Linked DNA regions of Homo sapiens: region 1 is linked to region 2. The links come from fine-mapping of genetic effects on gene expression. A gene starts in region 2. The other region holds a variant in brackets. All regions are shown on one strand. Distances are from middle to middle.

The links.
Region 1: its variant is fine-mapped to the expression of LINC02475 in testis (GTEx, PIP above 0.99).

Annotation. Positions count from the first base shown.
Region 1 is chr4:44,087,705-44,090,631 of GRCh38, reverse strand. No RefSeq gene overlaps it. Among named protein-coding and RNA genes, the nearest start is that of LINC02475, 72 kb to the right of the region's middle. The variant C/T (reference allele first, on the strand shown) is at 1,255.
Region 2 is chr4:44,015,127-44,018,053 of GRCh38, reverse strand. LINC02475 (long intergenic non-protein coding RNA 2475) reads right to left here and starts at 1,193. Exons shown (of 2, transcript NR_131959.1): 1 at 992-1,193. LOC105374438 (a long non-coding RNA gene) reads left to right here and starts at 979. Exons shown (of 5, transcript NR_188377.1): 1 at 979-1,446; 2 at 1,968-2,125.

The sequences.
Region 1 (2,927 bases), 73 kb before region 2:
AAGAGCAATTCCTTCTATTTAGCTCAATAATTCTTCCCTGGAAACTCAAGCAGCTCCCATGTTTCACAATGGGGCTATCTTTTCCCTTCAGGTCCTCTGCCTGACTAAGGTAAAGTTACTGCATCATCTTTGCTAGTCCAATGGAAGGAAGCCAGAGGGAGATGACTATTTGAACTGGTTTGGAATTTCAGAGCTCAGCATATGACCAGGAAGGTCACGTATGAAGAACTCTTATATTCTCTGTGAATAAAAGAATAATAATAGAGGCTAAAATGTATGGATTGCATAATATATACTCCCATGCTCAGTATTCAAATGGCACCCTGCAACTATTTTATGAGGTATGTGTTATTATTATTCCCAAGTTACATTTGGAGTGACTGAAATATATAAAATTTAAATAACTTGCCCAAGGCCACACAGTTAGTGGTGAGAGATAAAGAAAGCATCATAAAAATTAGTTATTTGAGTTAATAAAATTTCTTAAATATTTGGGGAATATTTAAAAGCTATTGCTTTTCAGAACTCAATTATTCAGTTAAATCTTTTTTTCATTTACAATGTGAATAGTAACCAAAAATATTTATTTGCTATGTAGATATTTCCATCTTCTATTTCTCTTAGATTTCAGGGATAGGCCATGCCTTAGAACTGATATTGCTCACTGAAGACAGGATTGGAAAGAAAACATCTTTCAAAAATAGACTTGTCCATTCTTAGAGTAAAAAGAGACTTCAGAAAGTTGATTGCAAGAAACTGTTGAGTAAGGAGTTGAAGTGAAAAATTAGACCATTGCAAGGCTCCTCCAGAATCATGTCTCTGCAGCATTCTGCTGAAGACTCATTTATACAGAACTTTCTAGTTTATGTGCTTATTATCTCTACTAGCTAAGTGGTGTGAGAGCAGGACTATATCTTATTCAACATTTTATTCATGTGAGTTGCTAAGCGTCAGTAGTCAATACCTCTGTTTTATATCCATTATCTTTTTTGATTTTTAAAACAAATCTGTGATATATTTCACAGCAGGTTTCTTATTTTGTTGTTGTTGTTGAAATGAGGACACTACATTTCCAAAATCACCCAGCTAATGAAGGAGCGAACCTAGGTTTTAGACCCAGGACTTGTCACTTTAGGATCAGAATTCTTTCCACTATGCCAAATTTCTTCAATATTTAGGCAGACTCATCATAAGTAAATAAGCATACAGAATATATATCTTCAAATCAACTAAAAGTGACACTTGGGTTATCTA[C/T]AGTAATGAAGAATGCATTGCTCAATTCTCCTACCCTCTTGTATTATGACAAAGTTTACTCACTATCATACCATTCATTTAGTCAATAAGAATTTTAAATCATCTTGTGCTTTAAGAACTGTGCTAGGATTGATGCAAAAAAAGAATCAAGCTTTATTTCTTAATGAAGAATAATCATAATGAAACTAACTTTTATTCCCTAAATGCAATGAGACTCCTGAAGTAGGCTTCTTCTCTGAGAAGGGTTAGTTGGTTTTCCAGACTATAAAATAATGAGCACATTCTTGTTCTGAAACAACTATTGCCTATATAGTTCTCTTCTCTTTTAGAGACCTGTGAGAGAGAAGTGATATGAAGAAATTATCCATTGAATTGGATTTTTTGGAATGTATGCAAGCGAAAGAACTCAAAATTTTGTTATAGTTTTCCTTTGGGAATGAATTAACTGGTGATAATTACATTAACAATATTTATTATATTTTATGTTAGGTGTTTTCATATTTGTTACTGAAAGGTTTTAGGTTTTGAATATATAAAGGGATATCATATAGATTTTCCATATTCAAAACATTTATAAACTTGTTGGAAATTCTCTTTTCTTCTCTCCTTCCCCCTTCCTAAAGTGTAGCATGATGGCTGTTTTCAGTATTTCTAAATAGAATAAACTCATTCAACATTCAGTGAAAAATTGTTATTGACCATCTCTTATTTGCCAGATGCCATGTTAGATTATGGGATATAGCAATATAGAAAATAACTTTAAAATATCCCAATACTCTTGAAACTTGTATTCTTGTGTTAAGAGAAAATAATATGCCTAAAATAAGGGGAATAATGACCAGAAATACGATATACAAAACAAGTGGCTAAAAGGATGACAAATTAATATCTATTCAGAATATGAACATTAGCTGCATTCCATTTGAAATTAAGTGAGCTAAAGCCATTTTTGTTTGCCTCTTCCCTCCATACTGCATATTATCTCCTCTAGGCAGAACAACTCTGAAAGCCTTTGCATGGAGATAATTGCATAATTGCTTCTCTGTTTCCCTTTTTACCTAGTAAATTGATTTGGAATATTTCTATTATTTCCATTCTTTGTTAAAAATCAGCCTCTATGATGTGAAACACATAGGAGGAGAATTGTTTAAATATTATATTTCGCTTTATAAAAGCCTTGTGAAGTTGGGTTTCAGTGAGTGCATATTGGACCATGACATTGACTAATTCAGACATGAATGCACAAAACAGCATGAATAATATGCAAAACAATAACAAATATCTTAGATTCTTGATATATGTTTCTTTAAGCCATCACAAAATTCTAACCTCCCTGAACTGCCAAAAAAGTGAAAGATGGAGCCTGGAAGCTTTGCCAGTGATCATTTAAATCACCAAAAATATTTTTGCTTTTATGAAAAGATTCATATTTACTTTAATAAGTCTTCTCCTAGTATTTGAAACTAGATTAAATGTAAATGTTACATGAATACATTAATTTATACATCTTTCTGTGGAAGAAATGTAAATTTGTCAAAACTTTTGCTGGACAAGAGGGTAGATTGGAACCCTTATCTCCCTTCTGCTAGCACCTGTTTTAAAAAAGTTAAAAACTTAGTTCGGAAAATAAGCTATTTTGGTGAGGAAACTGATAATCTCCTTCTGGGAAACAA
Region 2 (2,927 bases):
ATGAATGTTAGTTTATTTCTTAAACAAACATCAATCAAATTTCTTTTTAGATCCACCATCTCTCCTATTTCCAGAAATATCTGACTTCTTGAATTCTGAGCAATTTGCAGGTTTTGAGTTATATATTATGTTCCTTTGATTTTTTTCTAATTTTCCCAAAACTGGCCTAGGATTTAAGTTTCTGTCAACCACTAAGAAATTTTCCTTTTTTTCTAGATTTAAAATGTTATTGCTATTGTTCTTTTCTTTGTGTTAGTGGGTTTATAATTTAAAAAATATCTTCACTGCATTTTAGGGGAGCTTTGGGAACAGATGAAGAAAAATGCACATGTAAAAAAATCTCTTTACATAGCTAGGTTTCATCTTCATATTAATATACAGTCATGTATCACTTGACAGTGGGGATACATTCTGAGAAATGCACAGCTAGGTGATTTCATTGTTGTACCAACATCAAGGAGTGTACTTACACAAACCTAGATGGTATACCCTACTGCACCTTCTATATGGCAGAGCCTATTGCTACTTAGCTACAAGTCTGTACAGCACGTTACCGTGCTGAATCCTATAGGCAATTTTAACACGTAATATTTGTGTATTTAAATAAATTTAAATATAGAAAAGGCACAGTAGAAATACACTATACAAGATGTAAAAATGGTATACCTGTATAAGGTACTTACTGTGAATGGAGCTTCCAGGACTGGATGTTGCTCTGAGTGAGTCGGTGAGTGAGTGAGTGAGTGGCGAGGGAATGTGGAGGTCTAGGATATTACTGTATACTACTGTAGACTGTATAAACACAGTTAGGCTATACTAAATTAAAAAAATGTTTTCAATAAGTTATACTTAGCTCACTGTAACTCTTTTTACTTTATAAACTTTCATATTTTGTCTTAACTTTCTGACTCTTTTGTAATAACCCTTAGCTAAAAGTGAGGCAGGAGAATAGGGTCTTGAGGCAGGGAACCTAAGGCCGATTCGTACTTACTGAATATCAGAAGCTACTCCCTTTTCAACCCCTCCTTTTTCTGCGTGGCAGTTGCTGCGTGGCAGTTGCAACCCCTCCTTTTTCTGCGTGGCAGTTGCAACCCCTCCTTTTTCTGTGTGGCAGTTGCTGCATGGCAGTTGCAGTCCCTCCTTCTTCTGTGTGGCAGTTGCTGCGTGGCAGTTGCAACCCCTCGTTTTTCTGCGTGGCAGTTGCTGCGTGGCAGTTGCAACCCCTCCTTTTTCTGCGTGGCAGTTGCTGCGTGGCAGTTGCAACCCCTCCTTTTTCTGTGTGGCAGTTGCAACGCCTCCTTTTTCGGCGTGTCAGTTGCTATGTGGCAGTTGCAACCCCTCCTTTTTCTGTGTGGCAGTTGAAAATGAAAGTACCTCCAACCGGTTCCCTCCTGCAACCAATCAGACTGATTTGCGCAGAATGAACCAGTGGGAAACCTATAGAGGGTATTTAAACCCCAGAAAATTCTGTAATCAATGCTCTTGAGCTGCTTGCTCAAGGCCTTTCCTTCCCTATGGAGTGTACTTTGTTTAAATCCCTGCCTTCACTGCCTTGCTTTGTTTGTGTGTTTTGTTCAATTCTCTGTTAAAAACGCCAAGAACCTGGACAACTACCCTAAACAGGCAACAAAAGCACAAAGACGTTGTACACAAAAATATTTTCCTTCTGTATATCTTTATTCTAGAAGTTTTTTTCTATTTATTTATTTATTTTTTATTTTGATTGTTTTTTGCCGTTAACATTTTTTTGTTAAAAAGTAAGACCAAAACACACTTGTTAGCCTGGGCCTACACAGGGTCATTAAGACATCACTAAGCAACAGGAATTTTTTCAGATCCATTATAATCTTATGGGACCACAGTGTATATGCGGTCTGTTGTTGACCAAAATATTGTTGTGTGACACATTAATGGGGTGAGGATATTATTCTCTATTATTATCTTATGTAATTTTTAAATGCCATCAGATAAAACACAGAAGGGAGCACAGAGCTGCCTGGTCCTGCAGCTCTCCTGGAGTGAGGTGGTGCTGCTAACCACTGGAAGCTGAAGTCCAGAGGCTCTATTCAGTCAAGGGGTGATGAACTCTCTTTGGGTCTGGAGACAGGCTGGAACTGGGATGAGAGTAAGTAAAGAAAGTCAAGTGAGTAGAAAACATTGGGTGAAGACAGAGAGTAGATTCACTGCTGTAAAGAACTACCTGAGACTGGGTAATTTTTAAAGAAAATATGTTTAATTGACTCACAGTTCTGCATGGCTGGGAAGTCCTCAGGAAACTTACAATCATGGTGGAAGGAGAAGCAAGCACCTCCTTCACAAGGTGGCAGGAGAGGCAAGGGGAAAGCGGGGGAAAGCACCACACATTTATCAAACAGCCAGATCTCCTGAGAGCTCTATCATGAGAATAACAAGGGAGAAGTCTTGCCCCCAGGACTCAGTCACCTCCCACCGGGTCACTCCCCCAGCACATTGGAATTACAATTCAATATGAGATTTGGGTGGGGACGTAGAGCCAAACCATATCAGAGCAGATAAAGAGAGGTTGATGAATGGGTACCAATATGCATTAGGTGGAAGGAATAAGTCCTGGTGTTAGATAGAGCAGTAGGGTGACTATAGTTAACATTTCAAAATAGCCAGAAGAGCAAAATTCAAGTGTTCCTAACATCAATAAAATATAGATATTTAAGGTGTTGGATATTCCATTTACCTTCATTTGATTATATGAGTGTATCAAATCACATGTACCCTGAAAATATGTATATATATTACAGATCAATTTAAAATAATTTTAAAGAGATATCATTTAAAAAAAAGAAAAGGTTTGGTGAAATTTTAGCAGCTATCCTGAGGGGGAACATGCAAGGACCAGATTAGTGTTTATGAATAAACTCTGTAAGTTTGTAATATAAAGGTGTCTATATGAT